Regions from separate parts of the Homo sapiens genome. Here region 1 is linked to region 2. The links come from fine-mapping of genetic effects on gene expression. Tissue or cell type: sun-exposed skin. Region 2 holds a variant in brackets; the other region holds the start of a gene. All regions are shown on one strand. Distances are from middle to middle. Region 1 holds the start of ZIC1 (Zic family zinc finger 1). Region 2 overlaps LOC440982 (a long non-coding RNA gene).

Region 1 (8,334 bases), 99 kb before region 2:
AGTGTGGGCAGCATCCGGGTGCCCAGAATAGAGTTTGTATCAGTAGATCAGGCTGGGCATTTAGCCCTCCCTTTGAATCACCCCTCCCCCAACCTGCAGGCGGCTGAGACAGGAGAAAAAAGAGCAGCATGCAGTGGTGTGGGTCGCTGCGAGGACAATACTGTCGGAAAGCGGGGAAAACATGACCTTGGAATCCAAAGGGAGTTTCCTGAAGACGGTGACGGCCGAAGTGCAACCCTCCAAAAGCCCCTCCGCTTTCCTAAGACTTTGACATGGGCCATTCATCAACCCCAACTTTCAGATCCAACCTTTGAGCCAGTCCTAGCTTTCTTTCACAGCTCAGCTCTATTCCCTCCTCATTGGCCCCTAATTTCCAATGCCCCTGGGTCTAGGCTAGGGGCCAGAATCCTAGGAGCTGCGGCCTGCTCCCCAGAGAGCTAGTTGCTGCTCTTGTTCGCATTGGAGATAAAGAAAGCCAAGTCCCGAACCCACTGCTGGCCGCGCGCAGAGAGCAGATCCCAGCAGTCAGCTTCCTGAGGCAGGACCAGGGTGAGGGAGGGCAAGGAGCCGCCCTGAGGTGGACTCAGGCGGCATCTGCCGTCAGGTTGGGGCGGAGAAGTTCCATCGTCTTGCTGCCATCTGGGCTAACTTGGCGCTTTGACCCTGGAGAGGGGAAGCAGAGACTCTCCTAGCCACCCCCTTGGGGGCAGAGCAGAGATACCTCCTGTAAAGGCCCCCTCCCGGCACCCGCCTTGCTCATTTTTCGCGAGGGAAGCTCTGGGCCACGACTTCCATTCTTGTGCCCACGGTGGGGCACCCAGGCAATTCACAAGGAGAGAAGGGAAGGCAGGCAGGCAACAAACTGCTCCTGGTTCCTGTGCCAGTGGGAGCCCCATTTGTACCCCTTTTCCCTCCTCCTGGGAAGAAGGGATGGACTCATCCTCTGCGTTGCCCCTTTGCGGAAGGGCCCCCTCCTCCCCTTAGTGTCAGTGGGGTGGGGCCTTTATCCACGGTTGGGGGAGGGGGGTAGGATGAAGGAGGAGATGGGGCAGAAAGACTGGCTGGGCCTCTTCCCCCACTGGGGTTTGGGTGCCAGTGGTCCCCTTGAGGGTACTTGCTACCCGGTCGCTGGAGGTACAGTTCTCATCTGTCTGCCCCCTGGACTCACGCACTTACCCCACTCCACCTGTTGCCAGGATCGCCTCATTTCTGCACATCATTTCGGGGTGGCTGAGAGGGGACCACAAACCCCTCCAAGCCTCTCTTTTGTGGTTCCAGCGAGGCGGTCATCCTTCACTTCTCCTTTTCCAGCTTTCAGGAAGCAGTTAGGGAATGTATGATGAAGCAGAAATGAGCCGTCAGGATGATATTTTAATGGCTTATATGTCACGTTGGTGCATGTGGCTTTGAACTGGAGCCGTTCGCGTTTCCTGCAGAGAGCGCCGCAAATCCCACTTGATAACTTCTACAACCCACAACTTTTTTTTTTCTCACATTCACTCTTACCCTGTATATTTGGATGTGTTTCCTAAAAATACCCTCTTGTCAACGTCCCCGTTGGATTTTCCACGGACTGGAGAGGAGAAGACTGACTTTTCTTTTTTGAAGAATTATTTTCCCTCTCCCCCTCCCAACAGCTACCCTTCCCCCCTTAGGTCCCCTCCCTTGTTGTGTGTGTGTGTGTGCGCCCGCGTGTGTTTCCTGAAAGGCGGGCGAGGTGGGTTCAATATCTGTTCTCCCTAGTGAGAGGAATACAGCCTCTAGAGAAAACTTCTCCATACAGATGAGGTTTTCTAAACTCCAGGGGAAGCAGGATCCAACTTCCCCTTGTAGGTAAAAAGACTTAGTGCCTCCGATATATCTTTTTTTTTTCCAACCAAGTGTACAATAATTTTTAAAGATACCTCGGCCCTTTCTTTACCTCCACTCCTCATTCCATTCCACTCAAAGTTGGTGGGAAATGCTGGGCTGCTAGACTCAGACTTGTTGATGGGAACAGAACAATTAATTTTTTTTCCGAATTTATATTTCCCGGCACAAGCACAAATGCTCAGCCAGGTCCCTTCAGGCACCGGGAAATCATCCCGGATACCCAAGCCGACTTTTGAGCAAGCACAGCCCATGGAAAGGGCAGTCCCGCCGGCCAGCCCCAAGCGAGAATCTAGTTGGTGAGAAGACCAGAAAACCAGAAAGGCGAGGAGCGGCGGACGCTGACCCTGCCTTCCTCCAGCCCGTGCAGTCAGCGCTGGCGTCAGGGCAAAAAATATATTCATTTTCATTTTCCTCTCGCTGGGGCACGGTGAGTTTCCTAACCGGGCCGCCTATGAAAGGATGAGTTGAGGTTTCTTTGTTTGGAAAAAGAGTTTAGGGCTTTGATTCAGCTGCAAAGAAGCCAAATGAAGTTAGAAACAAAGGGTAAATTGAAGGATTCCGACTCTTGGCTTTTTGTGTTTTCCTTACTAGAAAATAATTAGACCTAATGAATATGCAGACGCTTCAGCTAAAGCCTCGGCCAGGACTGCTGGGTTTTAAACAGAGCTGCGGAGAAATGCAACCTTCGTCCCCACAACCCCCCGCATCCGCGTGCATTTTTTGAAATGCATAAATGTTGCTCGGCTTAATTGATTGAGTCACAGGGATTTTTTTTTCCTGCTTTTAAGTACCATACTCCCCTACCTTTCAACAATCATTTTAATATATAGTCAATGGCTCTTTGTGGAAGGGACAAAAAGAAACTACGCGCAGTTGTTGAATAGACTTTGCGCTAGGCAAAGACAGGTTAATCGAGGGCCGCATCGCGAAAACAAGCGAGTGTTGTATGTTTGCACTGAATCCAAATGTCTGCATTTTCCTAACTAAATCAAAGGGAGTGTTATTTCTTTTTCTGCTCACTCATCTGAAGGTAAGTAAATTTTCTCTGGCGATCAAAAGCCTGGTCGGCAACAAAGACCGCGCCCGCTTTTTCCACCGTCCTGGTGTGGCGAGTTGCGGAATTTCAATAACTGTGACAAGGGTGACTGATTTGTGAACTAGAAAAGGTTTGAATGTCACAAAATTTACATTGGTCCTATCTATTGGGGATTTAAATACCGAAAAAGTATTCGGGGATCTCTAGGGAGCTTTGGGCAGCCCAAGGGAACAATAGCGCGTTGGGAAATTTACAGTTTTACCTGAATGAAAGGGGCCCAAGTAGGGAACAGGAGTGAGGAGAGACAGGGTTAGCGGGGGCAGTCGAAGGAGACAACGGAAAGGCAGAAAACAGAAAAATAACGCAAGAGAGAGAAAAAGTAAAGGAAACTGGCAACAACGTTTCAAATTTGCCATTAAAAAATTCAAACCTCAATAACCTGGGAACTTAAGCGCTTTCATCCACCTGTGTGTGTGAGTGTGTGTGTGTGTGTGTTTTCGGGGAGGGGGGTGCGGTGGTGCCGGAAGTCTGATTAGATAAAAGCGAGAAATACAGAGGCTGCCGGTTACACTGAGAAATTACATTTTTTTGTAAAGAGAGCATAGTGCCCGTGTGCTCCCAAGATCTTAAATTATAAACAGGAGGGGGACAAAGCAAGAGGGAAACAAACTTCAAAAGGAGCAAATAACAAAAGCCTCTTTTGCTGCTCTTGAAGGGAGGGGGGAAGGGGGAAGAAAGAAAAGAAAGTTGCTGAATCGGGACATTCTGGAAGTGCCTTTGCTGTGTTTACTAGCCCCATCCCCGCCTGCTGCACCCGGAGACGTCTGAAGTCTCTAATCGCTCAGCGAAAAGTTGGTTTCGGGAAGGGCAGCGCCGGGGTGCGGGAGGGCAAAGGAGGAAGAGGAATGCATATGACTGTGAGAAGGAAAAGTAATCGTGGCAAAAAAAAAAAAAAAAAAAAAAAAAGAAAGAAAGAAAAGAAAAAAGAAAAAAAATTTCCGTGAGAAGAGGGAAAAAATTTGGCTAAAAAAAAAGTTGCTACTCCTGGCAGCCCTGGTTTGTCAAAAGGGGATGTCAAGCGCTTTACAATACCTGGGATTGATGAGGCGGGCGGGCCAATGAGCTGCGCGCGGCGCCTCGGCGCGCCCTCCGTTGGCGCGGCGGCTGAGGGCGGGGGGAATGCGGGCGCACCAATGGGCGCCAGCGTCGGCAGCACGTGACACCTCCCCCCTGCTCCCATTCATCAAGGGGGGGACGGTGTCGTCCTTTCAATTCATTTATCTGCAGGAATGATTGCTGCTATCAGTCTCGCGCTCACCGCCCGGCTGAGGAGGTGAAAGTTTCTCCCCAGGAAGATAAACCGCAAAAGACAATATTGTGCATGATTTGCGCCTTTTCTTTGGCTTTTTCTTTCTTTCTTCACCCCCCCACCCACTTTTTTTTTTTTTTTTTTCAAAAAGCAGAGAGGGAAAAACGGAGAGTGAAGGAGCGAGGAGGCGAGCGTGAGAGAAAGGAGAGAGAGAGAAAAGAAAGGGCGAGGGGCTAGTGGAGAAGTAAGGAGGGGCGCGCTGCGCGAGGCGGAGAGAGGGCGAAGCAGTCGCGGCACTGGCGCTCACATTCCTCTATGCTACAAATCCAGGAGGAAGTTTTTTTTTAGGGGGCTGAGATGCTCCATGCCTTTCCCCGGGCAGCCTTGACGCGCGGCCCTCTCGGCAGAGACTGAGCGGCGAGAAAGTGCGAGCCGGGCCGGCAGAATCTGCCTGGCGGGCGCTGGAGCCTGCGTTACTCGCGGCCCGCAGCCGTCCGGCTACTTTGCGTTTGGCCCGGCCAGCGCCCGGGCGCGCCGCGCCATTGCCTGCAGGCTAGGACTTCGCGAGGTGGGTCGACTCCCCCTCCCTCCTCCTCTTCTTCCTCCTCTTCCTCCTCCTCTTGTTCCTCCTCCTCCTCCCGATTTTCCCTCCTCGGCTGGCGAGGGTGGGGGGGGCGGGGGAGGCCGGGGCTCGCCCCGAGCAGCCACGATGCTCCTGGACGCCGGCCCCCAGTACCCAGCGATCGGCGTGACCACCTTTGGCGCGTCCCGCCACCACTCCGCGGGCGACGTGGCCGAACGAGACGTGGGCCTGGGCATCAACCCGTTCGCCGACGGCATGGGCGCCTTCAAGCTCAACCCCAGTTCGCACGAGCTGGCTTCGGCCGGCCAGACGGCCTTCACGTCGCAGGCGCCAGGCTACGCGGCTGCTGCGGCCCTGGGCCATCACCATCACCCGGGCCACGTCGGCTCCTATTCCAGCGCAGCCTTCAACTCCACGCGGGACTTTCTGTTCCGCAACCGGGGTTTTGGCGACGCGGCGGCGGCAGCCAGCGCACAGCACAGCCTCTTTGCTGCATCGGCCGGGGGCTTCGGGGGCCCACACGGCCACACGGACGCCGCGGGCCACCTCCTCTTCCCCGGGCTTCACGAGCAGGCTGCCGGCCACGCGTCGCCTAACGTGGTCAACGGGCAGATGAGGCTCGGCTTCTCGGGGGACATGTACCCGCGACCGGAGCAGTACGGCCAGGTGACCAGCCCGCGTTCGGAGCACTATGCTGCGCCGCAGCTGCACGGCTACGGGCCCATGAACGTGAACATGGCCGCGCATCACGGCGCCGGCGCCTTCTTCCGCTACATGCGCCAACCCATCAAGCAAGAGCTCATCTGCAAGTGGATCGAGCCCGAGCAGCTGGCCAACCCCAAAAAGTCGTGCAACAAAACTTTCAGCACCATGCACGAGCTAGTTACGCACGTCACCGTGGAGCACGTAGGTGGCCCGGAGCAGAGTAATCACATCTGCTTCTGGGAGGAGTGTCCGCGCGAGGGCAAGCCCTTCAAAGCCAAATACAAACTGGTTAACCACATCCGCGTGCACACGGGCGAGAAGCCCTTTCCCTGCCCCTTCCCTGGCTGTGGCAAGGTCTTCGCGCGCTCCGAGAATTTAAAGATCCACAAAAGGACGCACACAGGTACGGAAACAGCTGTAGGACCCCTACCCATTCCCACTTGGGCCTGGGACCCAAACCGAAAGTCAGCGGCCAGGTCGCACAAACGCAGCCTCGGTGGGATCCCGGGCGTCAGGTTCCGGCAGGCAGGCAGGGAAAGTGTGCGCTGATTTTTAGTTTCTGGCTTGAAATTATGGAAAACACACACACACACACAGGGCGGACGAGGAGGAGCTGGGTATATAGATTTTTTAAATGAGAAACAAAAAAGGTCGGAGAACAGGAAGCCAAACCTGGTTTGGCGGAGACCTTGGTGCTTTCGAAGCCGGAGAAAGTGGCTGGCTCCCGGCAGCCGCGGAGGCGCCAGCTGCTCAGGCTGCAGACAAATCTAAACCCTTGCTTGCTGCCAACATCTCTCTCCGTGCACTTCACTGAGGACTTTGCCAAAGGAAAGAGCTGAGGAAATTGAGGAGGCCGGGTTAAGGGCGTAGAAAGAAACAAAACAGAGACAGAAAGAATTGAGACAGAGTGGGGAAAGGAAATAATTTGGGATTGAGGAGGCTTTTGGAGCTTTATGCATATTTGAAGAGTTCAGTTTTAGTAGTGACTGGTTTTAAGAGTGGGTTTGAGGGGTGGAGAAAGTCCGAGGAAGGCAAGGAAGAACTTGTTGTCTATTAGACTCCATGAGGGTGTTTTCAAAACACCAGATTCCCCTCTTTGGCCTTTAAAAATAATCAAGACACAGGTCCGGAACAGTTAAAAAAAAAAAAAGTTCCCACGAGCTCAGGGTTGTAGCCTGGCATCAGACAAAACATTCTGGGCCCCCTGCCCCCAAGAGGCCGGGAACTGGGTCTCCTTTCCTATTCTGATTTTCCCGGGTGAGATCTGAGAACCATGCTTGAGACTTCGGGTTTAACGCCCGAGTCAGGGAAGAATTTGCGGCGTTGAGTTCTCTCCGGCCCAGATTACGCTATAAAATGTGAGTGTATGTAGGGAGTGGGGTGGGTTGGAGGAGGCGACCAGGGGATGCGGAGCGTCGGGGAGGGGGCAGGGGGAGGAGAGAAAAGCAATAGGGCAGGAGAATAAGCCGCAAACGTGAAAACTAGAAACCAGGAGCCAGGTGGAAGCAATCCGAAATCGTGTGTAGCTCTGGGTAATACGAGTTTCCAGATCTGATGCTAAAAACCGACTCCTCCTACTATTAATTTTTTTAAACATAAAAATAAAATGTAGATCCAATTGTATTAGGGATTACAATAGAGTTAAGATATTTATAATTCCACTGCAGATGTAAGAATTTATTGACGTTCCGGGTTTTTAAGCTTGCAAAGTGCTAATCCTGGGCTGCTGGCTTTTTGTTTTATTTTTTTTCTATTTGTTTAGTTTTTGAAAAACGGCCGCGGTATTTTTTTCTAATTAGACCCCTCTCATTCTACTTTGGCACCAGGGGAGAAGCCCTTCAAGTGCGAGTTTGAGGGCTGTGACCGGCGCTTCGCTAACAGCAGCGACCGCAAGAAGCACATGCACGTGCACACGAGCGACAAGCCCTATCTTTGCAAGATGTGCGACAAGTCCTACACGCATCCCAGTTCGCTGCGCAAACACATGAAGGTAATCGCCGCACTCTCGTCGCCCCCTTTGAGGCAGGAGCTCTCTTGGCTCTCGGCTTGGGGTCGGGCGGCGAGTGGCAGACAGGCGGTGGCGGGAGCCAGAGGAAGCGGGAAGGCAAAGGTTCCACTCAGTGGAACTGGGCAGAGAAGGTAGGGCGGGACCTGGAAAAGGGGATGGGAGTGTCCAAGGCCGTTTTAAATTTTTGGTTTAATAATAAAAGTTAAAAGAGGCGAGTATGAGCAAAGGCCGCCACTGAATTTGGCCCAGAGCTAGGGCTTTTGCAGGGGGTTGACGCTGCGGAAACTGCTGCCCTTGCAGCTGCCAGTGAGACGCAAGAATTGGACTCCTGCGCCCAGGCCTGAGCTCTGGCTCACCTAAACATGGACAAGCAAAGTTCAGGGAAAGAAAGTGCAGTCTCTGGCCTCATATCCAGTCTCCCTCTTCCCAGACCTATTTTTCTTTTGTGAGTCTTGGGGACCCTGACTTTCCCAGGAGCACGGTTTCTGCAGGCCTGTGCAGAGAAACCAAGCCCAAAGTCCCGCTGATCGGGCCTCACCTGTGTTCAGGGGGCTCCAAGGGGTCCAGGAGGAAGGGCACTCGCGGCCTTCGCCTCTCTAGTCGGCCGCCGCACTGGCTCTTTATGTCCGTAAAAACGCGACTTTATTCCTGCAGGTCCACGAATCCTCCTCGCAGGGCTCGCAGCCTTCGCCGGCCGCCAGCTCTGGCTACGAATCCTCCACGCCTCCCACCATCGTGTCTCCCTCCACAGACAACCCGACCACAAGCTCCTTATCGCCCTCCTCCTCCGCAGTCCACCACACAGCCGGCCACAGTGCGCT
Region 2 (8,334 bases):
GAATGTGATTATTTATGTAATAGGTTCAACTTCAGTAGTTACACAGCAATTTACTGAGTACAGAGTAAAAAAGTATTTAGTCCACAATTTCTATTAATTAAGAGTAGAAGATGATTTTTAGTAGAAGCTCCTTATATATTGTATGGTACAAGTCTAAAATTCTCAGAGTTAAAGAGAGGAGCTTTATGAACATGTGCTTATTCTGTTTCTCTTATTTTTTCTGGGAGAACGCTTAGTTCATTCTATGGAATTAAGGCCACCCCTGAAGTAATCTCTCTCAGAATTATGTGCTGCTTCAGGTATCCCAGTGAAAGAGGTCTCTCACAGTTCTAATATTTTTGATAAATTCATATATAGACCAAAATGTGAATGTGACATTATTTTAAATTCCCCAAATTATCTGATCTAATCTTAGTGTTCCAAGTGTAAATCTGAAGGGAAATTAAATCGTATTTTGTTGAAAGATAGTATTGTAGAGACTTACTATAAGGCTCTAGAAGTTACCTGTCTGTCATGAAAGATTTGTTTTTATGGGACTGAATGATATATTGTAGATTTCATAGAAAACTCTATGTTTTCAAATTTTTGATGTCCCAAATTTAATTTCACTAACTGATACCCATGGAGTGTTCATACTGAATTGATATGGGGAGAGATAACCGGCAGTGAAGAGGTGAACAATAATCTAGTTGCTCCAGGCATCTGTGATTTTTCCTACTTCTATATTATTTCAGGTGCTCTACATTTTGCTTTTAAAATAACCGTTTTAATTCTATTGATTTCTCTACATCTCTGCTTGTACCAGCTACCATCTTCTGTCACTTGGACTGCATGCTGACTTCCCTGCCTCTAGCCTCCCACTTTAAATGCCCTGACATTCATTCTCCGTACAGGAGCCAGTATTTTTTTATAGTGTAAGCCAAATTATGTCTCTCCTTCTTTAAAAGGCTTTCAAGGCTTTATTTATAATTGCCCAAACTGAAAATAATACAAATGTTCATCAACTAGTGAATGAATAAACAAATTATAATAATTCGTACAATAGAATTCTTTCAGCAATCATGAGCTGTTACATACCAGAACATCGGTGAGTCTGAAAGGCATTATGCTAATTAAGAGAAGCAAGACACAAAACCTACAAGATTCCATTTATTCCATTTACATGACATTTTGGAAAAACTATAGGGACAAAATCAGACCAGTAGTTGCTAGGGGGTGGTGGATGCAAGAGAACTTTTTGGTGTGAGGTAAATGATCTATTTCTTGATTGTGACAGTTGCACATCTTTATACATTTATCTATAATCATCAGTTTTACATGCAAAGAGTGAATTTTAATACATTCATATATGATGTGACATATTTGTATGTATCTGTCTCTGTCACACACATATACACACACACACTCTCTCTCTCTCACACACACACAAACACAAACACACATATATGTATAAAGAGAGTTCCAATCCTATAGAATGCGTTGTATCCCCCTAGAAATAAAAATAGGAAAGTAAACACATTTTCATAAAGTGCCTCCCTTTAACTCCAAGAATTTTGCACATGTATTGTAGGCTGTGAGGAGCTTCTGCCCCAAATTATGTACATGAGGTACATTATACCCCAATAAATGTGACTTAAGCATCAAAAAGCATTCAATGGCCTTCCTGTACTTAGACTGAAGCTCCATAGCCCTAACTGTGGTCTAGGAGGCCCCTTGTGAACTTGCGTCTGCCTGCCCTTCACCTGTTTTCTCCCACTACCTCTCATTGTTCTAGATCATTTAGTAAGTTTTCTTAGATGTTTGATATTTAACTTTCGAAACAATAATTAGCATTCAAAAGTAACATTTAATATTTGTTGAGGATTTAAAATGTGAAATTATATATCAATAATTCCTTGAAATGATACCTATATTTTCTCTTAAAAATTAAAATTCTTATCTACAAACTGTCTATATCTGTCATAATAGGCATCTTGATTTTTTGTTCATGGAAAGCGAAGAGAAGATTCAGTAATTTTAAATATCAGAGGGGTTGTTCAACTTAGACAACAGCTAGTTATTTTCTGTCAGTTGAACATAATATAGGATGAACTTATACTATATTAATTAATTACACAAATGATTTTTTATATCTATTATGTAACAGGACACATAAAGGGGGCATTTTCACTTTATAAATATACAAGGATTGAATTTTATTAAGTAATACGCTCTTCTATTTTATTTACAAATATAATTTAACATATAAGCCATCACAGTCATGTGCTTCAAGATATGTTTTGGCCAACTATGGACTGCATGTATGACAGTGGTCCCATAAGATTTTAGTGCTGTATTTTTACTGTATCTTTTCTATGTTTAGATACACAGATACTTACCTTTGGGTTGCAATTACCTGTGGTATCCAGTACAGTAACATGCTGTACAGGTTTGTTGCCTAGGAGCAATAGGCTATACTAAATAGCCTAGGTGTGTAAGCTACACCAGCTACATTTATATGAGTATATGCTATACTATGTTTGTACCAGGAGGAAATTGCCTAATGACACATTTTTTAGAATATATATCTGTAGTTAAGTGACACGTGATTGTACATATATTTCAGAAATATGCAATACAACTTCTTGTGTATTGAATGTGAGTCAATGCACAAATATATAGCAAGTACAATTTATAATGGGAGAGAGACTGAATATAGAAAACACACACACCCACAAAAAATTTATTCAATTCTAAGAAAAATACAGTTTTCTAAAAGTGGGAACATATAAAAGTAAAAATTTAGTTAACATATGTCTAAATTAGATTTACAAAGCTTCTATAAATGCATTAAAATAGATTCATATCAATCATTAAAATATCTCAAAAAAACTGATCATATATATTATCTGATAGTGTACCACATCACATTGGTCACCTTTACATACTATGCCTCCCAGGAGTATTTCAGAACTGGACAAAATTTTCAACTCATGTGAGAATTAGCAAAATACAAATTGAGCCCATAATGGTGTTATGGAATTTTAATTTTCAAAAATGTTCAGTTGGCTATTTCCTTCCCTCCCTCCCTCCCTCCCTCCCTCCCTTCCTTTCTTCCTTCCTTCCCTCCTTCCTTCCTTCCTTCCTTCCTTCCCTCCCTCCCTTCTTTCCTTCCCTCCCTTCTTCCCTCCCTCCCCCCAATTCTCACTCTTCTTTACCCTTCCGTTTTTTCTTACGCTCACTTATTACAGTCACTGTAAGAGGTTTTCAGTTTATGGCTCTAGGATATCTTCAATTCACCTGAAATTTTTGCTATTCTGCATGAATATAGTAAATATACAGACCACTGGCTAGCCTTAGTCCCAGAATTTACTTCTTTTCTCTTAGTTAATTTCCTTTTCAGTTCCAGGAACAGGAAAACATTACTCAGGGAACATCTTGTGCAATGATG[C/A]CACATCCATCACTTAATAAGAGCTTGTTTTCAACTTTCTGAACCAGCGGGGTGACCTTATGTTCCCAAGAGAGGGCCTAAAATGCACTGGGCAAAGCTCTACCTCTTGAAATGGCTGTTTGGTGTTACAGATGTTCAGGTGACTGACTGATGGTTTCCTCCCTCTGTATGACAGCTCCTGGGAAGCTCTAGGATGTGACTTTAAGCTGGAAAGACTCTCAGGAGCTAGGTTTGATATGGCACAATCTCAAGGCATCGCTAAGTCTGAAGTTCTTCCAGCAGGTCTGGTGAGTTCTGAAACTTTCCTGGCAAACCCATCTACTCTGACAGCACAAACAGAGAAATAAAAATAAGGGAAATATCAAAGTTAAGGCCTTCCTGGGTGTAGTATAACATACTGGTTAAAAGCTGTAGTTCTGAGGTTGAGATTGTTTGGGTACAATTCCTCATTCCACCACTGCTGGCTGCACAATCAGGGCATCAATTTTCTCATTTACGGTAATAAGAATATAATGATGAAAATAATAATAATACTTACATTCAATGGAATTACCATGAAGATTAAATTAAATTAACACAGCCTAGCACAAAATAAACATTAACTAAATGTTATCTGTTAGTATTGTTGTTATTGCTATTATACTGTTATTCTAAGCCTCAGCAGATAATTTGGCCACAACTGAGTAACTACTAGGGATTTTCTTGTATTATCAATTATACAAATAATTTATGGAACAGTTGTGATAAATATATACCTAAGGAGGCTGGGCATAGTGGCTCAAGCCTGTAATCCTGGTACTTTGGGCGGCTGAAGGAGGAGGATTGCTTGAGGCCAGGATTTCAAGACCAGCCAGGGCAACACAGAGAGACTTTGTCTCTACAAAAAATTTAAAAATTAGCTGGGTATTGTGGCACACACCTGCAGTCCTTGCTACCAGAGAGGATCACTTTAGCCCAGGAGTTTGCAGCTACAGTGAGCCATGATTATGCCACTGCACTCCAGTCCAGAAGACAGAGCGAGATCCTGTCTCTAAAAAAAAACAGAGTAAGAAGTTAAGAAAATTATTTTAAAATACATGTGGTTGCTAGAATTTAAAATATTCATCACCAGTTTGTATGGAGACAGGAAAATGTTGTGTCTTGAGTCAATTTTTATTAAGTTTTGTGCAAAAACATCTCATTTTCTTGGTTTTATAATTAGATAAAATATTCAAGGGCACAAAAATATTACTTAAAGGAGGAGGCGGCTTAAGAAGTAAGCCAATATATATTATATTTTCCTAGGATAATTTTCTGTAGGAAATTAGATTAGATGAGAAAAATAAAATTTCAGATTTCACTTGGCATTTTGTAACCCTGCTTACACAAAAGGTTAAAAACAAACAAAAATTTTACTTATCTCTTTTTATTGCACATACTTTCTCTGGTAAATTCTATGCCAGATGTAGGAAGCAAATTATTAAAAATACAACTTCCAGCAAATAAAGAGGCAATTATTGCTATACTGTTTTAATATAAAATCTGAGATAACTTTTCAATGAAAAATATTTATCATTTTTATATCTATTTCCTCATCTTCCTCTTTTTCTTTATTATTATTATGGTATTATCGCTGTAATTCATAGAAATGACACATTGCTAAATGGCAGTGAACACTGAACAAAGGTAAGACAAAATTAATTTATGCAGGAAAATGAGCTAGAAAAGCAGAAAGATCCTTTTCTACATAGTAAATACATTATTTGTAGAAATCATTTTTACTTGCTAAGTATTTCCAGGCATGCAAATAACTGTTATTCTCAACTGTCTTTTCTATGTCTTGGCCAAAGTAAACCACAAAGGACAAGCAGCTCAGAGATTAGCGAATGCGTCTCAGCTGTCCTAGAAAAGTGCTGTCAGCAAGTCTGAAGAGTTTCCCAGAAGCCCTGAAAGGACGCAATAGCATCATTTAGCAGAAAGAAACAGCCCTGGATTAATGTTCTTTTGGGATTCATCTTCTGGCTTTGTGATTTTGGGCAAGTTACTTATCTTCCTCCATTTATTCACATATATAATGAGAGGAGTAGTACCTACCTTACAAACTTTTCTGTGAGAAGCAAAAAAAATAAAAATAAAAAATAAAAAATAAAATTGTTAAATATTTGCTATGTGTAAAATGCTTATTCCTTTAAAGTTTTCATGTCAGTTAAAACATGTTATTGGCTTGAATCCTGACTCAAGAACGGAAATAGTAATTGTGTCTGCCATTCAGGGTGACACAGTTATTTCCACTGGTTCAGGGTGGTGGGGTGGGAGCTACTAGATAGAACAGGTGGGGCAATTCTTGATACATTTTCGTGTTTTTTGTTACTACTAATCCACCAACTCTTGTTTTCACTCAGAAGCAGATAAAATGGACATATTTATTATAGACTGAAAAATGATAAATGAGATTAATTTTAAAAATAAAATGAAAAGGAGAATAATTGTTTATAAATGTATGATTTATAAGTTCTGAATGTATAATTTATAAGTTCTGCATGTATGCATAATAAAATCATTTAAATTACAGGAGTATTAACTGAGTGAAGTAATTCTGATCATTTAGATTTATGTGTTCCTTGGACAGTCTTAAATGAAAACAAAACGTGATGGCTTTAGAGAATTTGACTTTGACTGGAAATGTTTTTAATTGGAGAGTATTTTGCATTAGCTGATGGAGTTAATTTCCCTAAGATCTTCAATAACTTGTGCATGTAGCACTAGCTAGTTGGAATCTGAGAATTCAGGGACATTCTTTATTATCTTAAGTAAAAAAATTGTGTTTGATGATATATGTAAAATATGCAAGCTCATATACTCTTTAAGATGGGATGAAAAAGAATAGTTCTATTGTACATTAGAATAACTGGGTTTTCTGATATAGTACTTCCCAGATGTTAGCAGCTGCAATGAAGATAACAAAATCAAGCACAATAAAGTATTTCTTGGGTCAAGTTGGAGAAACACAAGATTAATCAAAACTCTAAAATGATGCTTTCATTGCAGCATTTCTCAGAATCTTTACTATACCAAGGTGTATTGAGAATCTTTAAGGATGTTGGCAATATGTTCGCTGTGTTTTCTAATATTTGATCATCAAATCATTTTCTTAAGACGTTATTGTTAGGAATATATTTTGGAAAGTACTGGGTTGGAAGATCACTATGTTTTCTTGTCTTCATTTTTTAAATTAGGGAAAACAAAATTCATACAAATTCTAAGATGGCATATGAGTTTAGAATTTTCCACCACATATTCACCTTGTTTGATCAATTCTATTGGGGGCATTCTTGTATAGCTACCTTACAATGCAATTTCTAATGATAAGAGATTGTGGCTCCTGGCTTTTCTCTTTCTTCCTTCTAGCATTTTAAAAGTGTGGTTATCCCATATGTTAGGTCCAGAAAAATGTTGTGTTTTCCTCTGAGAATATCTGATCTTGATAATGGAGAACTAGACCAAAGTGGCATCTGGGATTTTTAAAAAAACTTTATTATACTTTAAGCTCTGGGGTACATGTGCAGAACATGCAGGTTTGTTACATAGGTATACACGTGCCATGGTGATTTGCTGCACTCATTAACCTGTCATCTATATTAGGTATTTCTCCTAATGCTATCCCTCCCCCTGTCTCCCACCCCTGGACAGGCCCTGGTGTGTGATGTTCCCCTCCCTGTGTCCATGTGTTCTCATTGTTCAACTTCCACTTATGAGTGAGAACATGCAGTGTTTGGTTTTCTGTTCTTGTGTTAGTTTGCCGAGAATGATGGTTTCCAACTTTACCCATGTCCCTGCAAAGGACATAAAATCATCTTTTTTTATGGGCATCTGAGATTTAAAGCATGAAGACAAAGAGAAGACACTCTAAATGAGTCAATTTCCACAAGAACTATCTTGGAACTTTGAAATACAATTTTAGAGACAGAATTTTAGAGACATCAATAAAATTGAGTCTGTAGTAAGTGATAATTATTATCATGTGTTCTATTCATCGTGTCCCAGGAAGTAGGGAAACAATAGAAAAAGAAAATCTCAGTTGAGAATTATGTTTTTGTTCTTTGTTGTTTTTGTTTTTCAACATTGATGCTACTGTCATTTTGGACCAGATAATTCTTTGTTGTGAAGGACTGTCCTGTGCACTGTAGTGTTTAGCCACATCCCTAGCCTGTACCCTCACCAGTATGGGGGCAAAACCACCCTGCATTGAGAATTATTGATCTAATCCTTTCCTATAATATTTTCTCCCTTTGGCACTCAAAGATGAGTATAGAAAATTCAAGGGCATTGTATTATGTATGTTCATGTGATTATACAATAAAACTACAAATAATTTCAGGAAGAATAACAATTGTGTAGTGGGTTTTTAAAATCATTTTTCTGAGTCTCAGTCTAGAAGTATGGGATCACTTTCTAATCTCCTATTAGCTGACCTAGCTGACTTACTTTTTTATCCTTGTGCCCTGACTGATTGTCATTTCTATTTAAAAGGATATTAGCAAAACTTTCACTTTTGCCTTAAAATGTTTAAGAAGAAAATTATTAAAACCGTGATTTAGAATTTCTCCTGGTTGGTATAATCTTTCAGGTATCAACAAACACTATTTTTTTAAATAAAACAAGTAGTTGCCAAATACGTTGTTTAAAACTATAAGCTAAATTGAAGGGGATGGCATACAATCCCCCATCTATTTATATTTTGACATTCTGTTGGGCTATACATTTTACACTTATCTCTCTCTCTCTGTCTCTTTCTCTCTCTCTCTCTCAATAGTTTCTTTTTATTTAAAAAATATTTGAGACTGTTACAAAACTAGGAATGAGGCAGTTTCTGATAGGTTAGAAAACATTGTCTGAAAATAAGCTGCTTGTTTACTGGTGCAATC

Evidence for each region.
Region 1: it holds the start of ZIC1, and the variant in region 2 is fine-mapped to the expression of ZIC1 in sun-exposed skin (GTEx, PIP above 0.99).

What each region holds. Positions count from the first base shown.
Region 1 is chr3:147,405,187-147,413,520 of GRCh38, forward strand. ZIC1 (Zic family zinc finger 1) reads left to right here and starts at 4,179. Exons shown (of 3, transcript NM_003412.4): 1 at 4,179-5,908; 2 at 7,332-7,495; 3 at 8,168-8,334. The coding sequence starts at 4,927. ZIC4 (Zic family zinc finger 4) reads right to left here and starts at 1,357. Exons shown (of 5, transcript NM_032153.6): 1 at 1,177-1,357. RefSeq lists enhancers at 2,173-3,363, 3,786-4,366, 6,992-7,831, 7,832-8,334.
Region 2 is chr3:147,504,336-147,512,669 of GRCh38, forward strand. LOC440982 (a long non-coding RNA gene) reads left to right here. Exons shown (of 3, transcript NR_121655.1): 2 at 3,606-3,717; 3 at 5,260-5,575. Among named protein-coding and RNA genes, the nearest start is that of ZIC1, 99 kb to the left of the region's middle. The variant C/A (reference allele first, on the strand shown) is at 3,431.